Linked DNA regions of Homo sapiens. The protein of the gene in region 3 interacts with the protein of the main gene of each other region in a biochemical or structural test. Each region holds a gene or a part of one and is shown on either strand. Other genes may lie near its edges.

Region 1 (3,274 bases), on a different chromosome or scaffold from region 3:
ATGAATAAAAGATAGAGGCAGGGCAGGACAGGGCCCTCCCTGATGGGCCTCCCCGCCGTTCTGTGTGGTGGAATCTCACAGTCAACTTTGACCTGTGCACATCCACTTTTTTTTTTGAGATAGGATCTTGCTCTGTCACCCAGCTGGGAGTGCAGTGGTGCCATCACAGCTCATTTCAGCCTCGACCTCCCAGGCTCAAGCAATCTTCCTGCCCCAGCCTCCCAAGTAGCTGGGACTACAGGTGCATACCACCACACCCGGCTAATGTTTTGATTTCTGCAGAGCTAAAGTCTTACTATGTTGTCCAGGCTGGTCTCAAACTCTGGGCTCAAGAGATCCTCCTGCCTTGGGCTCCCAAACTGCTGGGATTACAGGCATGAGCCACTGCACCCGGCCAACACATTCACTTTTTTGGGACATGGCAGGGACTTAATGTTTTAGAAAACATTTAGCTACCCCTTTGACAATGCTGCTTGACACTATTTGACAGTGTGACTTACCACATCCTAATAACTTCCATGAAAATCATCACAAAGCAAATTTTAAATTTTTATTAAAAATCACAGTTTTTAAAAATGTCCAGTGACACAATGTAGCTCTTCTGAAATGAATGGAAAACACAACACACTGCTAACCAGTGGAGGGAGCTCTCTGCAGGGCTGGGAGACCTGACAATGCAGCTGTAGCCTCTGCAAGTGAAAATCCAGGCCGACTTGCAGTCATTGGACTGATGTCCAAGTGCAATCACCATACAGCAGCTACAGGCAGGGCTGGCTGATAGGGAGTATGGGAGAAGGACACGCTCAGATGAAAACATGCATGCAACGATTTTCACCACTGAACACACTGTTTTCTGTGATAGAAACTGTCGGCCCTGCTGGGGGACAAGATATTCACGGCCTCACTAGCCAGTGTGATGCCACCAGGGCAGCCTGCCCCTGATGCTCCTTTGTTACCTGCTAAAGAAGGACCATAAGGTAAAAGGCACCTTACCTTATGGAGTGAGCCCAGACCCCAGGGAAAAGCTTGGGTAGAACAATCCAAGGGGCAGCCTGGGTATGAGAATCCAGCCCAAGCTAGCTGCTCTAGAAGCCTGGAGGCCTTTCCCAGCTTCCCAAATGTAGCCCTTTTCACATGACCAATCCTTCAATTAGGTTACCTTTCTCTATTTGCCCTCCTTGGTGGCTACAGGGGAAAGGATAATTATTCCTGACCACAAGACACATTTTCACTAGAAAAGACTTCCTCGTGCTGGCCACAGTGGGAATTCTGCACACAGGTGCCTGCTCCACCAAGCAGAGAGGCTCAGGAGATTGTCCAGGGACAAGGAGACCTGGCCGGACCTCTGCAGGGAGGTGAGGCCCCTGCCCCCATCTTGTCCCATCACATTCTGGATGTTTGGCATCCCCAGGCTCCTGGGAGGGGAGAAGTGCTGATAAAAAGGCCAAAAATCACACAGAAAGAAGACAGAAAACTCCACGCACTTCCTACATAGGTGCTACCGTATTCCTACGAGCACGGGGCCTGTGTTGAAGACTCCCTCTGGAAGTTACAGAAGGAAGCCACCAAGAGTTCAGCCTCACAGCCTCTTTCTCAGATGCAGTCACCACTTTACCAAACTTGGCACATCCAACCACTCCTTTCATAATTTTACACCTGTTTGTGGCCTGGCTGACAGATATTTTGTCATTGATCTTTCTAATTTCAGGGATTCTAAATGTGTTTTGAGAATCTGCTCAGCACTCAGGGATTCTGTCTTTAAAAATATGATTAAACCACCAGATAGTGTGATTTCAGAAAGTGTGCGTGGCTACCAAAAACTTCTAAACACAAGTTATATGAGTGACTCCTGTCTTCTGTGGCTGAGCTTGGGTACTGATTGTCTTTCTCCATGCCTTGCATCCCCTGTTAGAGGAGGGCCTGCTGTCCATGGCTGTCCATGCACTTTAAAATGTCTCAGGTTTAGCTGAAGACCAGATGGGTCCAAGTTTATTTATATCTGCTGGCATAAGAATGATGGCTAAATTACCTCTTTAAGTTGTTTTTTTGTTTGTTTGTTTTGACAGAGTCTCGCTGTGATGCCCAAGCTGGAGTGCAGTGGCATGATCTTGGCTCACTGCGACCTCCGTTTCCTGGGTTCAAGCGATTCTCCTGCCTCAGCCTCCCGAGTAGCTGGGACTACAGACACATGCCACCATGCCCGGCTAATTTTTGTATTTTTAGTAGAGATGGGGTTTTACCATATTGGCCAGGCTAGTCTCAAACTCCTTACCTCAAGTGATCCACCCGCCTCGGCCTCCTAAAGTGCTGAGATGTCTCTTTAACTTTCAAGAGGTACAGCAAAACTGAAATCAATGGGTGATGACTTCTTAAAGATCAAACATGAAGATGAGGATTAGTTAAGACCAGAAAATCATTCTCCGATCTTGTATCTTCAACTCAAATTCACACTCCAAAAGGCCTGTTTGTGGTGAGGCTCAGGGTCTTTGGCTTGTTCTGAATTAATACTTTCTTTGGAAACTCTTTAGATGGCTTTGATCCCTGTGCTGCCCCCCATTGCAGACACAGAAAGCGACAGGGGATTCTGGCGGCACCCTCTCTGTGGAGGAGAGGAAGGTGTGGACCACGTTCAGAGGAAGGCAGCCTGAAGCTGTCCTCAGTGAGATGCTGGGGGATGGGCCTCTTGCCCCTGCTGTGCAGCCTCCATGCAGGGCTTTATTTACCAGTCACCAGGTCTTCAAGACAGTCTGCAGGAGAGAGGATTTCAGGGGGAAAGTAAGCCAAGCCAATTCATTCTCATGGTCCCCTTTTATCACAAACATGTAAGTCTTCCATCTCATAACAGAGACAGCAAAAGCAGTATCCAGGCCTTTTTTTTTTTTCTTTCTTTCTTTCCTTAACTGGCTACATGCTTAGAAACTGCACTGGTCAAACTTGATTTTCTTTTTAAAGCCTCAAAACATTTTTATTGTCAGGAAAGCTTTTCAGTGGCCAGGGATCAGTCTCATGGCCGTAGAAGCAGCCAAATTCCTCTGCCTTTGCCTTCCCTTCAGGAGTCACATGCTAAGGCATCCTTGGGCATTTGGAAAAGGCCGCTTGGGGTGAGAGTGCTCTAGGCCACTCTGCAATGTCCCTGGGCCCGATGAGTAACAAATGCACCCCGGGACCCAGAGAAGTGGAAAGACATGAAAGGGATTTGGAAACAGATCGTAAAAATAACCTGTATGAAAATCACACAGACAAGAAAACAAACAAATCCAGCTAGCCCCTTGGA
Region 2 (6,044 bases), on a different chromosome or scaffold from region 3:
CTTTATGTTGGTTGATGGCCCCTGCAGATATCTTCATCTTCAACATGGGCACCAAATCCAGTCTCATCTGCAACAGCTCTTTCTAGTTTTTTTCTACCCGTACCGTGGCAGGCCAGATCTCAATAACGCAGGCCTCCATAACAACTGTTTCAGCACTGAGTGGTTAAGTTAAATATTAAAAGCTGAAAGAGTGAGGGCCCTTATGCAAAGGCTAGAATGTAACAAAAGGCCACCAAGGGTTTTGCCCAGGCCTTTTCTGGGCCTTGAAGCATGACAAGATAACAAAGGAACCCATTTAGGATTAAACAAGTTTTATTGGGGGTCTGAAGGAACTTATTGAGGGGGTCTGAAGGCCTCCACAAACAAGTTTACTGGGGGTCTGAAGGAAGTCCCCAAACCTCCATGATTTAGCAGGAAACAAGATAAGGGTAATCACCCCAGCACCTGGACCCATTTAGATTAAGTAAATTTACTGAGGCTCCAGAGGAAGGTCTTCAGGGCTCAGATCTTATTTATAGATTTAAAAAAGTGAATCACTTATGTCTTTAGATGAATGTACACTCACATGTAGACATATAGCTTATAATGTAAATAAGCTCTGGAAAACTTTGTAGTTTTGAGTTGGTCTTGGGATCATTTCCAGGCTTTCTCCCCATACCTGGTTACAGAAATAAACTCCCTCCTTTCTCAGTTCATCTGCACCTCATTATTGGGCTGCGAGAATAAGCAGTCCAACCCTTGATTTGGTCTGGGAACAATACCACAATCCAGATGGGCTGTAACTTGCCACTTAAAAAAGCAGAGAGGCAGAAATCTATGTGACCTGGTCACATATAAGTCTCAGAAGGTGGGGCCGGGGAGAGAGGAAAGAGACCCCTCCTTACCCAAGACTGATAGAAAAGCATGCAAATGAAGGACCAAAAAAGTTTAATTATAAACAGTCTTACATCTTGTAGGAAAACGCAAGTGAGGCAACCACTGAAGGAACTTTATAAAAGCATTTGACTCCCTGTAATATTTGTAGCATTACCTGAGTATTAAAAGTAACAGATCAAGAAAACAAAGGTACTCTTAATACAGTAATATACAATCCAGTGCTGCCAATTCCATTTTTAGTTAATGAAAGCAAATTATACAAACAAAGTAAATAACTAAAAGAAAAACAAAAAAAGGAGGGGGGCTGGAGATACCAACAATACTAAATAGAAGTCGTTAACTCTAAAGGAGTTTAGAAAGGTAAGTTACATCCACAACAGGAAAGGATATAAAAATAGAGGAAAAATTTAATTCCGTGAGTCAACCCCGGTAACATTTCGGATTATTAACCAGATAAGTAAAAAGTGGTAGAGTGGGCTTGACTGAAATAGTTCATTTAGGATGAGAACTTTGTGTATAGTTGAGTCAAGTTTCACTAAAATTTCTGATCATTGGTATGTCAATCTCTTGATGAAAAATCAGTACCTGAATATGTCTTTTTGTTTTTTTAAGAGACAGGGTCTTGCTATGTTGCCCAGGCAGGATTTGAACTCCTGGGATCCTCCCACCTCAGCCTCCCGAGTACAATACCTGAATTTTAAATAGAGTTATTGTAAGTCTTATGAAATGAGATTTTGCTGCACTCTGACATAAGATAATAAAAGACAGAGCAGGAATTCATTATTATGAGCTGCTTGATCAGTTTTAAACCACTCCATTTGATGAAACAAGTGAGGTCCTTCCCTCCTGACCAGGCTGTGGAATGCTGTCTTCCCCAACCCCCACCCCCTGCAAAAGAGCAGAACAATAAGGCAATTGCTCATTTTACTTTGTTTTTATTTCAATGTAACATGCAGTAAAAAAAAAAAAAAAAAAAAAAAAAAATTAACAGGATTTATTAGCATTTACAATGCTTACAAAGAAAAAGACTTCTAAAAGCAAGTTAGTTCAGATTTAAGAAAAAGCTCTAAGTAAATACTTACAATAAATCTATTTCCATATGTTCAGTTTGGACCAAAATTTAAGATAGCATTTGGTAGATATTTATGTCTGCGGTCTATTTGCAGTATTTTTATATAACCTCTGATTCTTGGGATATCCAGCCCCCATTTTCCTAACACAGCAGGGAAGACATATACATGTGGCCACTTAAATTAAAGGAAAAAATGGAGTAGGGAGATCCCAGGCTGCAAAAATATATACAAGCATTTACCTTTTCCAGAACTAAACACTTCTTCCATAAAAATATTAAATAGCCAAGCCCTATAGAACTAGGGCCAGGGCTACTTCAAATATAACTATTCTGTATTTTAAAAATATAGGGCAGAAAGCCTTTTGGGTGATATTTATATATTTTCACACAATATTTCTAGGTCCCTAAATGAATCATGAAGCATTATATAGAACCAAAAAAATGTATTTTCTTACATTATCTCTTAATTTAATTTCATAAATCTCTAGTAAATATTGTAGGTAACTACATTTCAGTATGAGAATTCACCTCAACAGGAAGTCTTTATAGAGGGCTTAATCTTCATTAGCCATATATTACCAAGTTCAGACTTATATAATGAACGGGTAGTTGGCAGACATTCGCTCTGTAAGACAAAGCAATAGCGTTTTTTCTCCCTACCAACAAAAAGGCAGAGTCCCTACTTTTAACAACCAGGGCTTTTAGAAACCACACAGTATTTCCTGGGGTACATGAAATAAAAAAACCATAGGGCTGGGGAGAGCCTAGCCTCCCCATTTACACTGAGCTGCTTGATGAGGCAACCCTTTCACTCATGTAAGTCTCTGCTTTATGATGGCAGTATCTTACAGTAGACAAGTTTAAAAAAATGTTTTTATTGTTGTTCCAGGATGTAAAAGGAAGAACATTAGGGACAAAAAATTGTTTTTCTTTTTTCCATATGGAACAGGGTTCTGCTGCTTATTCTTGGCTTAATATTACTTGTTCATGCTATGCCTCTGAAATGTGGCAAAAGTCCCTGATACATGAGCTATGAGGCTGTCCTCAGGGTTCAGCTATGATAGAGACTCAGCTGGCTTAGGCTTCATCCACTGCCAATGAAGTCAAATTTATAACAGCCACCTTGACAGTCGAAGCTAGGCCAAGTTAAAATAATTAATTCCAGAGAACTTCAAAGTGCATTAATCAGTTAATAATGGAGCAATCTAAACTTAAATAGTCGTGAGAAAAAAAGGAAACCCTGTTAAAAATTTTAGGGGTGAAAATATTGCAGATGAGGGTTATCAATCCAGTTCATGACAATGTAAAGAATGGAAATGACTACTCCAACATATGTCAGAGAAATGATAACTTTGAAGACTTTTAATTCACAGAGAATATATTCCTGTGGTTACTGGATGTTATCTTCCTTTCTTTTTAGCCAGTACCACAGCTCTCCCTCTCAAATGAAAATCTGATGTCAAAAGCTGTTTCACTGACCTCTATTTGGACTAGAAAGCACTCTAGTCTTTCTAGTCTTAAACTCCTTAACAATAATTAAATATAACTGAAGTTGTTGGATTATGATAAAACTATAAAGCATCAATTATATAGCGGAACATATAAAAATCACCAGAGACATCTTTAGATGAATTCAATTAAATTAATTCTAATTCTAGGCTAAGTTTTTTTTCCTTTTATTTATTTATCCCCCACCACGCTGCCCAAAAAAAAGACAGGGTCTCCCTATGTTGCCCAGGCTGGTCTTTAACTCCTGGGCTAAAGGGATCCTCCTGCCTCGGCCTCCCAGAGTGCTAGGATTACAGGTATGAGCCACCATGCCCGGCCCTAGGTTAACTTCTTAAAACAATGAAGGAATCACAGTGTTAACATTGTTTGTAAAGTGTAGTATTTGTCAGGCAACTGAAACAATCAGACTTCCAAATGAAGTCATTTGCAGGCTGTGACCAACTTTTCCCTGAATTCAAATTGACAAAACTACTTTGTAGAGATGCAAGAGTCTTGCCTCACTTCCAGGAATGATGTATGGATTCATGCGCCAGAAAGGAAAAACAATAGTCAAGTCAGACTAAAATGAGAGGGAGAACACAAGCCCGAATTTTGCTCACATCCCCAGAAGCAGGAGTAAGCTTGCACTTTTAACAAATGCCTCTTACCAAGAGGCTTAATAGGAAAATCTTGTATATTGCAGTTACCAAAGGACTTCCCTGCATGTCTGCAGAATGTCTAAAAGAAAAAAACACTACTCCCAAGTGAGACTTTTGACACACATAAAATATTGTTGTTAAAGGAATAAACTAGTGGAATAAGACAAGGCAAATTTCATTGTTGTGTTAAAATCTCATGTTAAGCAAGGTTCTGACTAGTCATTTGCAGACCTGATTTCTGGAAACGCTGAGTAGAAATCACTGGGAGATAAATCTAAATGAGAACATTAATTTACTTACACTCAGATAACTCTCTAAAGAGCCATTGTCCAATTTTACAAGATGTGCAACAGGCAGAGAAGGACAAACATTGCAAATAAGTTCTTGCCCATTCATGGTGCAAGTTCTCAGAAGTTACTCTTGTCCAAATCCTTCTGTTTCTTCTATGGCAAACAACAGCTTTTCCTTCAGTTGCTCATAGCTCTTGTATGGTGGCAGGTCCAGGCGATTAAAACTAAAAGCAAGAATTGTTAGTTTGAGAAAAGGAAATATGCAAAGAATCAAATGAGTAGTGTAGTATACTACTTTATACACTACTATAGAAGCACAAAAATATACTACTGTGCTTCAAAGGATACCATCAAGAAAGTGAAATAACCCAAAAATGGGAAAAAATATTTGTAAATCATATATCTGATAAAGGACTGGTATCCAAAATATATAAAAAACTTAAAACTCAACAATATTTAAAAATGAACAAAGGATAGAGATTTCTCCAAAGACATACAAATGACCAATAAGCACATTAAAAAAATGCTCAACATCCTTTACCATGCAAATAAAAACCACAATGAGATACCACTTCACACCTGTTGGGATGGCTATTATTTAAAACACCAAAACAACAACAACAACAACCAAAAAAAAAAAAAAAAAAAAAAAAAACAGAAGAAAACAAGAGTTGAAAAGGATGTGAGGATGTGGAGAAATTGGAGCCCCTCTGCACTACAGGTAGGAATATAACGCAGTGTAGTCACTATGGAAAACAGTATGGCGAGATTCCCCCAAAAAATTAAAAATAGAATTACTACATGATCAAGGAATTCCACCTCTGGGTATATACCCAAAACAACTGAAAGCAGGGCCATGGACAGATATATCTATATTCTACCACAGTATACCTATGTTTATAGCAGCATAAACAGCCAAAAGGTGGAAATAATCTAAGTGTCCATGGACAGATGAATGTATAAACAAAATGTAGTATATCCAGACTATCAAATATTATTCAGCATTAAAAAGGAGGAAATGCTGACACATGCTACAACATGGATGAAAATTAAAGATATTATTCTAAGTGAAATAAGCCAGCCAGGAAAGGACAAATAAGGTACGATTCTACACTTACGAAGTACTAAAGAATCATAGAAACAGTAGTAGAATGATGTTTGCCAGGACCTGGGGAAAGGGAGTCATGGGGAGTCATTGTTTAAAGCAGCAGTCTCCAGCCTTTTTGGCACCAGGCAATGGTTTTGTGGAAGACAATTTTTCCATGGACAGGAGTGGAGAGGGGGATGGTTTCAGGATGAAACTGTTCCACCTCAGGTTAGATTCTCGTAAGGAATGCACAATCTAGATCCCTCACATGCACAGTTCACAATAGTTATTGCTCCTATGAGAATCTAATGCCTCTGCTGATCTGACAAGTGGTGGAGCTCAGCAGGTAATGCTCATTCACCCTCCACTTACCTCCTGCTGTGCAGCCCAGTTCCTAACAGGCTGGGGACCAGGAGTTGGGGACCCCTGCTTTAATGGGTACCATTTCAATTTTACAAGATGAAAAATGTTTTAGGTCTGGCATGATGGCCTGTAATTCCAGCACTTTGGGAGGTCAAAGCAGGAGTATTGCTTGAGCTCAAGAGGTCGAGACCAGCCTGAGCAACAAAGTA
Region 3 (7,043 bases):
CAAACTTCTTTAATTTTCTTCATTCTTCTTCACTTCTGCTTACATTTTATTTTTCAGTTTATTTATATATCTATTCTGGGAGAAAGCGTGTAAGAGGAAGAGGAAAATGCAAATAAATCTATTTAATAAAGTTACTTCTTAGCAGATAGAAAAGAAGGGAAAAAGAAGTTACATTGTGATGATAAATCCATTGCGGGTTACTCACTTCACTAATGTGGAGTAGCTACAATTTCTCTGTCTTCCACTGGCTGAGATAATTAAGAGTTAGCTGATATGTTTTGACAGAGGAGCATTTAATCTTAAAACTATTGCTTACAAATGACTGGATGGGCTTGCAATTGAAACTATGTCTTCCTCTATAAAAATACATGGAAGCTTTTACATTAAATTAAATTTTCTAATATCATTAAAGCTAAAATATCTTCAGCCACATCAGTTTATTCACTATTTTTATTCATTGCTATTTCATTTAATATACAATTTATTATATCAAAAAAATATAATTCTAGGTAACTCAAAAGACCAAACTTAGCCATTGTAACAAAAAAGAAAGAAAAAAAACCTATGGAGAATTTTTAAATTATGCTGAACATGTAATCGAAAATATTAGGCAGCATGTGTTTAAATATCTAGAGAAAAGAAGGCCGCAATGGAAACTAAATCCAATAGACTGAATATACAAAGGGACAATGGCCTGACCATATGTAAAAATAGAAACAAATTGGGAAGCAAACCTCCTTATCTACAATAAACAGCCCAGCAAACCAGCCTTTTGTAAATCAGATTTGCAGGAAGTCAGATTGCTATCTCTAGTAACAACCCAGGAAGCTACACAATTACTTGTATAACAATCAGCTCCAAATGACCAGAATTGATTAATAACTGGCAGCTTTCCTAATTTTTGTCCTTGCTTCCAACTTCAGACCAACAGAAAAAAGTCAAACATGCACCTCTAACCAATGGCTTCTAGTTATCCTGCCTATAGCTTCCCCAGGCCAACAGTCTCTAATGAGGGCATAGATGAAGCCTTCCCTTTTTTTTTTTTTTTTTAACCCTACACAGCTTTCCCACTCCTCTGCGGGCCTTTAAGTCTCTGCCAAAATGTAACTGATGGAGCTGACTTTCTTGCTATAGCAGTCTCTGAATAAATACTCTTTGCTTTTTTCGTTTGGTTAATATTCATTTATTTCCACACTATTGGAGCATCTATTCCAGGTCCATTAATAGGTAACGTGCATGCATACACTAAAAAGGTAATCTTCATAATATTCCGTGAGAAAATTTTTAAATCCCCATTTTACAGATATAGAGCACGGTTTGCAGAAGTTAAATAGCTTCTCATTTTCTCCTATTTTTACATCACGCTAGAGTAAAATAGCTTTTGGTGTATTATTGCTTAAAAAGATTTGAGGCCAGGCATGGTGGCTCACACTTGTAATCTCAGCACTTTGGGAGGCCACGGTGGGTGGATTGCTTGAGCTCTGGAGTTCAAGAGTAGCCTTGGCAACATAAGGAAACCCTGTCTCTACAAAAAAATATAAAAAAAAATTAGCTGGGCAGGGTGGCATGCACCTGTGGTGCTACTCTGGAGGCAGAGATGGGAGGATCTCCTGAGCTTGGCATGTGGAGGTTGCACTGAGCCAAGATCGTGCTACTGCACTCCAGCCTGGGTGACAGAGTGAGATCCTGTCTCAAAAAAGAAAAAATTTTAAGGTAATATTAAAAGTATATCTAACAATAGTAACAGCAGCTGTAAATTAGGTAAGTGTTTTCTAGCATGACTTAAATTTGTATTCATCAACTTTCTGGACAAATATAAACATTGTATTTTGAATTGATTCATTGCTTTAAAGTTGTAATTTATCAAAATATTTGTGGAATTGAAAAAATCAAAAGCACTATAAAAAATTACTTCTGTCTTTATTTGATATTAGAACACATCAGCAGAAATAATTTGCTGGCCAAGCAGTAATTGCATCAACAAGCTTTTCATAGATAGTGGGTAGAGCACCTTATAAGAAAGTGTGATTATTTATGATATATGATATTGACAAGGAAAAAGGTAAAAATGGAAATGGTAAAAATGAAAAGTGAAATTGATGATTCTAAAAGTAGAGTAATAAAATTTGTTTACCTGGCATTATAAATACTCTGCAATTTTTTAAAGTTAATTGCCTAACACTCATATAAGATAGGCAATATAGCATTTAGAAAATGAGGAAACAAAGTCATAGAGATATTCAGAACATTACCTAAAGTTTCTTAATTAGTGCGCAGTGGAGCCTATATTTTCAAAATGCATTATTTTTTTTTTTTTTGGTTTCAAAGTCTATCACATATGCTTAAGAAATATTTGATCAAAATTCACTTTTAAGATGTTCCCTTAGCACGTTATTTAGCCACCAAACTTAAAATGGTAGTAATTTGTTTTCTAATTTAGCCAAACTTAAAATGGAAGTAATTTGTTTTCTAATTCAGCCATGTAGGAAAGAAAGGAGGAACATGGCATTTGTACATGTTAGAAATTTCCGTAAAAGTTACGTAAAGCCAGACTGAAAACTATTAGGACAATATAGATGACAAATAAAGCTTTTTAAATGCCTGAACATAAAATGATACAATGATATTTAATCACCATTTCTTTTCCAAGGACTGAAAAAGTAAAAAGAAATCTACAGGTAACATTGTTTTATAATGTGGAATAAGAAATGATGGCTAAAGGTCAAATAAGTCCACGGGTGATTTAGACTTTGTCTCAATAATTCCATCTAGCTAGCTCAAACCTTTATTAAGAATTTCTTGCACTGAGAATTATAAATTAAAATGAACAAAAAGCTGAAATGTAAGAATTCTTATAAAAAGAAAAAGATTTATAGCATTGCAAGCTAAGAAAGAAAAACTATTTTTTTTTAAATTTCACTGTTGTAACCAGAAGTAATGAATTTGTCACTTAAAATTATAAATACAAGGGTATATAATTTGATCATTTTGCAAAGTGTACAGAGAGCCTCCTTTATACACCTTAACCGCTTTCTTCCCCTCTCACAAGCAAAAGACTGATTATTCATTACCTATCCATTGATCTAATTTTTAAAACTTTTAGTTATCTATTCCCCATTGGGCATGTGATAAAGTTTTCAGTTTGTACTATAATATTTTTTAACAGAAAAGAAAAAATAATTGAGGTCTCCATCTTTGTCTCTTTCCATATCAGATCTTCTAAATGGAGGTAGATGAGTAAAAGGTGTAGAGCAGATTTGAGATGCATTTTATAAGAAAACCACCTGGGAAATTTCCCAAACAAGACAAGTCCCAGACTCTAATCACATCATGGAAATAACATGCTTCAGTAACTTTGAAGCAAACCTACAGTGTAGTAGGCAGATATCTAGATTACATTATTCCTCTCTTCCACTGACTAGCTGTGTGACACCAGTCATATCACCTGACTTCTCTGTGGCAAGTTTCTTCCTTTGAAAGAAGGGGATGATAATAATAGAACCTCATGAAGTTTGTTTAAGGATTAAGGAGGTTAACATATATGTGTTGAATAGTAAACACCAGGGGAATATTACTTATTACAATCAATATGAAATAAAGAAAATTATGTTTGTTAGATAATGAGCAGCAAGTTGAAAATATTCTTATGGCTATGGTCAAGAGAAATCGGATGCTGTCGGTTCTACTAGCTATGATAATGTTCTTAGATTAAGAGAAAAGAATTATCTTCTAGAAAAAATTAAGCATCATGTTTATATCTTATCAATGGAAGAAACTGATTACAGACACAAATTTACTACTTCTTCATGCTCCGTACTGGTCAGTGAATACTGGATTACAGCACTTACTATGCAGTCCCTCTATCTGTATGATTCTTTGATTAAGGTTTTCACTTCTTGAAAGCAGAAGTTGTATCAAAATTCTTTGAGTCTTAAATGTATACTAATGCTTCACATACAGTGGTACTCAATATATGTTGAATGTATGAGGAATGAATTTATAAAAATAAATGCATGGATTTGACAGCTTTCAAAGAAAGAATGGAATTCATATAGAGTAGGTTTAACATTTAAAATGTAAAGTGTTTTCAGAAACTTCCTTCAAAACTTAAATCTACTTCTTAAAAACAAAAATCTACTTCTCAGCAGCCTTTTCGATGTGATTAGGTTCAAAGGACTGCACGGTTTTCTGTGTTTCTACTTCAACTTGACAGAAAATATTTAATTTTTCTTAAATAAGTGAAAGAGATTTATACTTGTATTACTTCTTGACTAATATATCATAATATCTTTTTAAGAAAGAAAAGTAGAAAGCCTACTTGGTAGGAATTTTCATTTATTTATATACACATAATGGTTTTATTAGTTGGAATTGTTTTTTAAAGTTAAGATTTGTTTTAAATAAATTAAGATGAGGAAAATGTTTTGCTTCTGAAATCTTGAAGGTATTTCAGAGTACATGTTGTATTGTCCATGCTTGTCTTCCAAAATTAACTACATATAGCAAGATTGGCACATCTTTTGTGGGTATGGTATATTTTTAATCTAGGCATCACATTGATTTGAGCTATATAATTATTTTGAAATGTTAGTGCTTATGAACTATTACATGATTTTATATCTCAGAAAGAATATGATATGTGTATATAATTATTTCTTACCCTATTCGAGTCAATTCTTGCTCTGGAAGTATAGATGGGAGGTGGGATGTTGAAAGCCTGAGGGACCAAGTACTCCTCAGCATCCATCATATCTTCCAAATCCTCTTCATCCAAGAGATTCTGAAAGAACTTGCTGTCATTTGGACTGGGAAGCTTCATACGATCATCACCCTAAAAGAAAGATTGCCCATCAGACACAAATATGATTCTTTCTTATCTTAAATATGTGGTCTCTGCAATAAATTTATGTAATATCATAACAAATGGTTGAAAAATTCATACACACATTTTAAAAAAACAAGTCTTTAGCACAACCACCGGCCATTAAGAAACCTATAACATGCTTAGAAATGATAGGGCCAGGTAAACAAACTTTATACAAGGAGAATATGATAAATGCCATTAGAGAATAATAAAGCAAAATCAAAAGATGTTTTTAGGGAGGTAAAATCAATTTCAGGTCTGAAAATAATTGTTCATTGCCCAGATAGTGTATGGGTTGCAACTTTAAGAATAAACAATAAAAGGTGATCAATTTATCAACGTTTATTTGGTTGGTTTGATGCTGTAGGATTATCAGGACCATAGGGTCTATACTTTATTCTATAGCATACTGACTGCATTATCAAAGTAGGGGCATTCAAAACTCACAGTGCAAGTGGCAAATAGAGTAAAGGAGTATGAGAAAGACACCAAAACCTTTGTTATGCTCTTCCTCACCTCGTCTATTTCTTAAGTATTTTTCCTATATTTTTAAAGTTACATAATTTTTGGAAACAATTTCAGTTCATGAAAACTAATTTTGGGGAAAAAATAAATGGAAATAAGTATCTTCTAAAACCTAGCTTTTATCTTTATGTCAGACTGTCGATATGAAAATAAAGGCTACCTTGCTTTACTGAGGAAACATAATACACTCTAGTCCAAGGCCCATTTGTTTAGAGTTTAGGTGAAATTAATCCTAGAGAAATATATTATTATTTTTTAATTATCCAAGTCTATCTATTTTTCTAGTGTTAAATATAAAATATTTCTTTGGTTGGTTGATTAAAATGTGCATCAATTCATTTGAATTGAGTTATTGCTTAGATACTGCATATCTCTCCAAATAAAACAAAACATATTTTAAAATATTTTTGGGGAAATTAAATAATATACTGAAACTTTTGATTCACTGTCTTCAAGCATGGGCAAGATTAAAACAAAAATCTGTCTTCCTTTTGTTCCGAAAAAAGAAAATTATACTAATGAACATGACTTACACATAATGTTAATAAAATCAAGGTGCTAAAATAAGTGTCTGAGGATTAAGACCTCTTTATGTATATGTATAATCATAATTATCTGTTCAGTAGCAGAGCCACTTGAATACTAAGGGAAGGTGCTAAAAGGTGGATCTGACGTGAAATAAAAAGCTCTTTTCCATAAGTCATGTCACATGATAATTCTGCTTAATTAATCAACATGTTTGTGGTCCTTTCCACAGTTCCAAAGTCCTGATACTACTCATTTTGCAGTGAGTTTGCCATTGGCCTAGTCTTAAAGGCATAAGTCAAATGTACTCACCTGAATAACTAGGTATCTTTGAGGGTCTCGAGCCATCCTTGAAAACTCAGCAGCCAGTTCCTTAAATTTAGGTCTACTGTCAGCATCAATCATCCAACCTGGAAATTTACACAGTGAAAATGTCACTATATTCGTAACTAGAAAGGAGTTGAAATTTAAATTTTGTGAAAATATGAGCAAAAGTTTGAAAAATGTTGTTTTAATCGTAATGATCTGAGAAAGAAAGCAAGCTAGTGAAAGAAACGACTCAATTGGTAAGGCTTTATCGGTCTCTTTGTTGATATTCATAACTAAATGTAATGTACTGTAAAACAAAAGATAAATTTTTTCTCTGATGTGTATAGACGTGACTGCAATATAAGTTATTATTTTGTATTAGGAGTGACATAGGAGAGAAGATTTGGTTACAATGCTTACACTGGCACAAACGGGAAAAGAGGAATTAAAAGCAACTTTCTTGTGCTACATTTGTCCTGGTGGACAAAAAAAAAAAAAAAAAAACTAATGCAAAGTGATTGGTAATGCCTGTTCAGCAATAGACATTAGCTTATCTTAGTACTAGCTTGTCTAGTATAAAAATACTATCAGCAATTTTCAAGGTATGTATTCTTATTTAGCTGGGAGTCTAGATAAAGCAGACCTTATCTCTACAGGCTCTGTTTAGCTAATGAGATGACAAGAATAAAAGTATCAAGCTTTCCTTGATTTTCTTGCCAAATTATCCTCTTCTTAGGTATTAAAACCCCGAAAGAAAGGTAAAATTCTCCATTAGGGAAAGTGTTTTCTTGGTTTTACATAATTAATTTCATCAGAGCTA
Region 4 (7,043 bases), on a different chromosome or scaffold from region 3:
GTAAAAGTAATGGAAAACTAAAATTACTACAAAAAACTACAGAATAAACATTTTATAGAGAAATATTCAGGCTTTGATCTGTTAATACATATCACTTCCTTCCCTAAGCCTGAGTTTTAAGAAGGTATTAACCTAATTCACCCTGATGTGAACTGGTAAATCTCACTGTCAACTGTTTTAGCAGCAGGATGGAAGGAGCTGTGCTGCTGAGGACAGGAACTGGGAGCCTTTGACTACCAGAAGTGAATAAGTGACATATTCAAGTTTAAGGGAAATTTTTAAATAGAATAAATGACATTCAAGTTTAAGGGAAATTTTTAAATAGAATACTTTTTTACTTATATGGTAATGTAATCCCAGCATTTTGGGAGGCCGAGGCCGGCAGATCACCTGAGGTCAGGAGTTTGAAACCAGCCTGGCCAACATGCTGAAACCCCGTCTCTACTAAAAATACAAAACTTAGCCAGGTATGGTGGCGGGCGCCTGTAGTCCCAGATACTCAGGAGGCTGAGGCAGGAGAATTGCTTGAACCTGGGAGGCGGAGGTTGCAGTGAGCCGAGATCACACCACTGCACTGCAGCCTGAGCAACAAGAGCAAGACTCCATCTCAAAAGAAAAAAAAAAGCAGGAAAAACCTAAAAAGTAGAAAGAAGGGATGAGGGCAAGCCCTACAAAAAGACCACTGTAATCATTTCCTTATTCTTCCTATTCATTGGAGAAAGGAGGGTGGCTAAATATTTTAATCTTAATTGCTTAACAGTGTGTACAGTTGAACCATATTGGTCTTTTTCTATCTTAGGTATATTCTTTCTTGATAATCAATACTTTAAGAAGTACAGAAAGAAACTATCTCAAATTATACTACTTGCATTTCTGTTTTTTTAATTTCTATTTTAAGACTTTCATTGTGAATTTTGAAAGTATATAAAACATGCTTTTTCTATTTTAGAAAGTTTCTGTATCAACTTACAGATATCAGGATCTTTGCTTTTCTTTGTTTTATTACTAAGAGTTATTTCAAATCTATTGATGTCAGGAGGAAGATCACTAAAGGAGCAAGGAGAAAAAGAATTAACAAAATGTTTTGGCATCAAACTACCTTATTTCTTTAGTTCTAGTATCAAATAAACCCCCTATTTCTGCTTTAAAAAAAAAAACAGTGTGCTAGACCTAAAACCAGATTCACAACATATTTTATTATTTGGTATACAGAAGACACGCAGATTACACACTTTTCCTACCATCTTTAACCTCCTAAACTAATAATTCATTCAAATAAGTACTGGAAACCCTAGTAAATGTTTTGTATTTGTGGGTTAGTAAATGTTTTTTGACTTGCTAATTCATGTTAATAACTAAGTGGAAAAACCAAGGGCATAGCACTTCACAAATAAAGGTGAACAAACAACAGAAAAAAAAAAAAAAAATATATATATATATATATGCTATTAGAACACCTGGATATGGTACCTTGTTCTGATGGTTTAGATACAGAGACCAAAAAAACAGAAAGAAATGCAATATGGTAAAAGAAAATGATTAATGTAATGATAAAATAAGACTTACTCAAAGACAAACTCTTCTGACCATACTGGGTTTTGCCCTTCCCTTGCATGAGTTTTTGCTACTTGGACACTATTCAGGTAGATGTTACAATATGGATTAGTAAAATGTTTTACTGGGAGTTTATGGGCTTCTTCAATATGTAAAACAAGGCTGCTGACCTAAAAAAAAAAAAATATATATATATATATTACCCCAGATTTCTAGAATTGCACTACATTTCAAAAGCAATTACTCTAAGATACAAAGCCAAAAATAATGACTTATTTTCCCCTTTTTTTTCAGAAAATGTGAGCTTTGGTTATATATTTGTATATGACATACTTAAAACATTCAGACATTTAAAATAATTCTTCCCACCTAAAAGATAAAAACAATGCAATTTTATTTTACAAGTTATTTCTCCCAGTATATTCCTGGAGAAATAATGAAATACACCTTTTCTACCATAAAACAATGATAAAGAGAAAATGAAGTTAAGAAGAAAATTCTTTATTAATATAAGTAAACAACTGTCACTACTCAAATTAAAATCCCGTATGTTATATAATACTTATCTGGAAGATTCTATTTCTATAAAAGAGTTCCACAGCTAAAAATTTTTAAAACACTGACTTTACCTTCTTATTTTACAGGAAAGGATACAAACCTAAAGAAACTAAGTTATTTGTTAGTTTGGATGCCAAAACTTAGACCATCCACCTTCTAGTATCAGGTTCTCTTTCTCTCTTGCCATATACTACTTGTGTGGCCTTGCACAAATCCGTCCCTCTAAGCCTCATCTTTCTAATATGTAAGTATAAAGTCTACACTACAGGTTGTAATAAGTATTACAAACTAGTTATCCCTCAGTATCTGTGGGGGACTGATTCCAAGACCCTCCACCTCTCTGTCCTGGCAGCTAACGAAGCCCAAGATGCTCAAGTCCCGTATAGAAAATGACATAGTATCTGCATAAAATCTATGCATGCCCCCCTGTATGCCGTAAATCATCTCTAGATTACTTGTAATACCTAATACAATGTGAATGCTATGTACATAGTTGTTATACTGTATCTTTTTATTGTATTTTTTCGACCCATGGTTGGTAGAGTCCACTGATGCAGAACCCATGAATAGAAAGGGCTGACAGTATATGTAAATCACTAAATCACACTGCCCACTGATACATAAAAAGTGCTTGAGAGATGTTAGCTATGATTATATTAAACCTGCAAATGTCATTTTAATGGCTCAAGTTTCACACAAAATACAACTTGCTCTTATTAGCAAAAATCCAATCTGATTTTTGATAGCTTACAAAATGTTACAATGTTATGAAGACATGGCGATTGTGTGTATACTTAAATTTCCCTGGGGAAGAGCCAGACTTTGGGTTACAGGGACTATTTAGTCACCTAAATATCAACCATTATCCACTCCCAGTAGAACAGTATGTTAATCACTCAGCTTATCAGATATTCGCACAAAGAGAACAGGAGACACTTTGGTTAGTAAATAAATATTGTACTAAACTTTCTTTAAACCTTGAGAATGTCAAAATTTGCCTAACTTCTTCCAATTATACAGGGATTACTAAAAAGAAAAAAGCCAAGAAATGGAGGTTATAAAGTTACCCTTGTAAAGGCAAAAAAAAGAGAAAGCCTAGCTTAACTCTCCACAAATCTCAAAGTATAGGGCATGTTACAGTTTCAAATAAGATTAAATATTTCCTAAGAGTTAAGCAGTAGGTTTTAAAAGCTGTTCTTCAAAATGAAAATCCCAAAAAAGTTTATTGGGATTAGTGCTATAAATCTGATGATCTTTTCAATGTTCTACTTTTTTGAAAGAGGCCAAAATAAGTTTTTGAAGGAAAATTAAGTGCCCAACAGAACCGTTTCTGCTGTGTTGGTTTAGTGTTGTTATTTAAAGTGGAAGAATAATCTTTCTTATGTTTTTAACAGTTGGCATGGACTAAGAAAGAACATTCTCTTTCATAAAGAAGTAACGTTTTCCTGCTACTGAAGCAAGTGGCAGCATGGCTTAACCCCATATGATGTCCAAAACAGTTCAGATAAAAATAAAATAAAAAGAGCAAAGTGTTAGAGCAAAATGTGACAATTAAAAATCCAAGAAAATTAAGCTTCACCTGACGAAGGCGTTTATTGGATGTCCCTGGACTACTTTTCCGTAAATTGCAAAATGCCTGCAGACCTTTCATCCAATCCTGCAAAGAAAAACAGCACTTCAAAGAAATATACACTAGTTTATTTGGCTTCCAAATCATCAGTTAGGTTTTTTTTTTCAAATTCAACAATTTTTTCCTTCTCTAGACTGCCATTTCTATTCTCAGACTATACTGTACTTCATAACAATAACCAATAATAAAATAACAATAACATAACAATAACAATAATAAAACAACCAAAACAATTGTAATTCTGTATAAATCTTTGTTTGAATTTATGTATGAAACACATCGAGTGGCCATTAATTAGCCAAAAAATCAAATTTACATTAAAGAAACTATTTCTCCCAAACAGATACTACCTTGGGGAAATTAACTGTATAATTAAGCTGTTATACTTGAGGCAAGCTTAGGTGGAATTTAACTTGATACACTTTGTGAGAGGGGGAGAGTGCTGATTGTAAAACCAACTGATAATGTGATGACCGATCCCATGACAAGCATATTAATCTATACTTTAGACCATGATACAGGTAGAAATGTATAAGGGGATTTGGGTTATTTTTAAGCTTCTCAAATATAACATTAGATTTTAAAAATCATTTTAGCCTAATATTCAAATCAAATTGCAGCCATATTTTTAAAATGTTTATCTAGTGCTTTGGGGAAAAGGAGAGAACTAAGGTTTATTAAAAACAAATCTAAATATTCACTTTGGTTTTTACATATTTCTGGAAAGCTGTGTACTATTGCTTTATTCAATTATGTCTTTAGTTTGTTGGCTATTTCAATGAAGCTGAACTTTATTAATATCTAGAGACTGTCTTTATATTACAGCAAATTAAAACCAAATCAGTTACCATAGCTTTTTGAAATAGAAGAGAATAACCAGAGACCCCCACAGCCCAATAAATCAACAAAAACTGGAAATACCATTTATGGAAATACAGAAATATTATGTATAAATACATTAAAAAATGTTCTATGTTAGGCTTGCAAAACATGCTGAAATGTCATTATGGTATGTGACATTTTATTCAGAAAGAGGGACCATGGTAAAATACTTAGAAAATAGGATACTGAAGTTTAAATTTCTAACTCAATTTCTAACATTTAAAAAAATCATGTAAGTTACCAAAATGTTTTGAGCACTACCTTTCTCATCTAAAAATTAGGGATACATAGCCGTAAAATTTTATGTGCATTACATGTGAAATGAGCATTAAATGAGATATTTGATAAAGATGTGAAATATGACGTTCAGTTGTAAGCTCATTCAGGTTTATTCTGTGAGTCTCACGCTAGGATCTAGTTTTAAGAGCATCTTCCTCATATCTAGGGTTGGCAAATTATATTTCCAACAAAGCCACTTTCACTTCTTAACCACCTTTAAGTTCCTTCGTTAGAATATAAGCAGAAATTTAGCTGTATTTGTATAAAATACAACCATATACTCCAGAAATATTAGGGTTCAAAGAAAGCAAAAAAATTTTTTAAGAGACAGTGTCTCAGTTTGTTGCCTAGGCTGGCTTACAGTGTCTCGATCTTACTCACTGTAACTCAAACTCCTGTGCTAATGCAATCTTCCTGCCTCATTCTACCCAGTGGCTGGGACTACAGGCATAAGCCAGAACACCTAGCTAATTTTTTACTTTTGTTATAGAGGTGGGTTCTCCCTTTGTTGCAAAATATTTTTTAAAGAGTGTTTTTTAAAAAATATTATTTCTTCACACAATTACTTAATAGACGCTATAAGAAGGACACTGCACATGGATTAATAGCTAATCTAAAGTAGACATTATATCTCGACTTGGCTTAGAGAATAGATTCCTAAAATATCTTTCCTTGTGTTGACTGACTTTTATTTTCAGACATGGAGTTCAACCAGTGAAGAATAATGCTTGTTAGCAAAACTAACTGGTTAACTGGCTTACCTTTGGATTATACTGAGATGACCTATAACCTTTATGCAGAGAGGATTTTAAATGAGCATTCTCAGTTGGCCTCAACATCATAGAGTATTTAAAGGTCAATTTAAAATGGAGTTTTCATTCCTAATAACCCTTCACTGTGTTTGTTTTTGCATTTCTTTCAGAAAACTTTTTACATATGAAATCTCATTCCTTAAAATAAGAGATGATTAGATTTCAGGCGTTCTGTCACTTTATCTTGAATGCGATCATTTTCTATTCCAGTTAATAAGAAAACATGGGCTAACATAAAAGTATACTGTAGTTTGAGAAACAGTAATCTTACCTCTGCTTGTTCTGGAGTTTCTCCTGCAAAGTAAAAGATGTAATGTTCTTCACTAAAGTGCTGAACTACTATCTGAAAACAGTTTGGCCTTTAAAATAAAAACAAAAATTATTAGGAAGCTTAATAAAAAGTAGCAAAATATTTATACCAGCTTCCAAAACACTCACAATAAATAATTAACATAAAATTATAATTCTTAAAGAAATAATACTCCATTGTACCAGATCATTACTAAAAAAAAGTCAGCTATATATATTTTAGAAAACTTTATGTCAGCACTATTAAAATGTTATCAGTATTTCAAAGTGTAAACTAAAGAAATTTCAATTAATTGTAAAATACATTAGAAATAAAGTTACAAACAGATTGAAGCTGAACTGCTAGAACTGCACACAGCTAATTTGAAAAGCTTTATATGCACTGGAAAAAGACTAGAAATGTTCTTAGACCAAAAATGTTCTAAGTAATTATCTCTAAGGAGATTGTAGGTGATTCTGTATTTTCAAATTTTTCTAAACTGATCATTTTTCTTCACCTGTTAAAATGGAAACATCATCTCTTCATACATATGCTTGTTCTAGAGTTTAAGTGAACAGTTGTGTACAACAAATGTTCTTGTCTTCCTTTAGTATTATTTCAAATCATTTGATATGTAAGTACAATATTAGGTAATAATTTATATCATTTTGGAAATGTGCTATCTTTCCAACTAGACTTGAAAATATTGGTAAAATCTTTATTAAGGGCCTGCATGTTTTTGGAACTCAATAAATGTTACTTCTGTTTCCTGCTTTAAAGATTTTATATCATGCTAATGTTAGGAGGCCATAGCAAAAATACACAGAGGACAAGCTTAACACTTATTAAAGATAAAGACTATATTTTCATGCTTTGAGAATGTCTTAAAAGTAATCATGGAAAATAGGAATTGGAAACTTCTAATCCTAAATGTTGCCTGTATCAGACTAACCACCCTAGTTGGATAAAACTTAAAATAGTAATACAAAACAGAAAAACAACTGTTTGAAAGCACTGGAGAACAACCAAAGCAGCTAAG

What was found.
Region 1: the proteins of ERBB4 (region 3) and SYK form a complex in vitro, tested with the Homo sapiens proteins (2 studies listed by BioGRID and IntAct, with this or other methods).
Region 2: the proteins of ERBB4 (region 3) and ITCH form a complex in vitro, tested with the Homo sapiens proteins (2 studies listed by BioGRID, with this or other methods).
Region 4: the proteins of ERBB4 (region 3) and RASA1 form a complex in vitro, tested with the Homo sapiens proteins (2 studies listed by BioGRID and IntAct, with this or other methods).

The regions. Positions count from the first base shown.
Region 1 is NC_000009.12:90,895,812-90,899,085, reverse strand, and holds the end of SYK (tyrosine-protein kinase SYK), read right to left. Parts: 3' UTR 537-3,274; downstream 1-536. UniProt on the Homo sapiens protein: Non-receptor tyrosine kinase which mediates signal transduction downstream of a variety of transmembrane receptors including classical immunoreceptors like the B-cell receptor (BCR).
Region 2 is NC_000020.11:34,506,260-34,512,303, reverse strand, and holds the end of ITCH (E3 ubiquitin-protein ligase Itchy homolog), read right to left. Parts: intron 4,610-6,044; coding exon 4,510-4,609; 3' UTR 531-4,509; downstream 1-530. UniProt on the Homo sapiens protein: Acts as an Acts as an E3 ubiquitin-protein ligase which accepts ubiquitin from an E2 ubiquitin-conjugating enzyme in the form of a thioester and then directly transfers the ubiquitin to targeted substrates.
Region 3 is NC_000002.12:211,415,781-211,422,823, forward strand, and holds part of ERBB4 (receptor tyrosine-protein kinase erbB-4 isoform JM-a/CYT-1 precursor), read right to left. Parts: intron 6,325-7,043; coding exon 6,227-6,324; intron 4,832-6,226; coding exon 4,661-4,831; intron 1-4,660. UniProt on the Homo sapiens protein: Tyrosine-protein kinase that plays an essential role as cell surface receptor for neuregulins and EGF family members and regulates development of the heart, the central nervous system and the mammary gland, gene transcription, cell proliferation, differentiation, migration and apoptosis.
Region 4 is NC_000005.10:87,368,844-87,375,886, reverse strand, and holds part of RASA1 (ras GTPase-activating protein 1), read right to left. Parts: intron 6,075-7,043; coding exon 5,987-6,074; intron 3,770-5,986; coding exon 3,692-3,769; intron 1,725-3,691; coding exon 1,567-1,724; intron 1,048-1,566; coding exon 971-1,047; intron 1-970. UniProt on the Homo sapiens protein: Inhibitory regulator of the Ras-cyclic AMP pathway. Stimulates the GTPase of normal but not oncogenic Ras p21; this stimulation may be further increased in the presence of NCK1.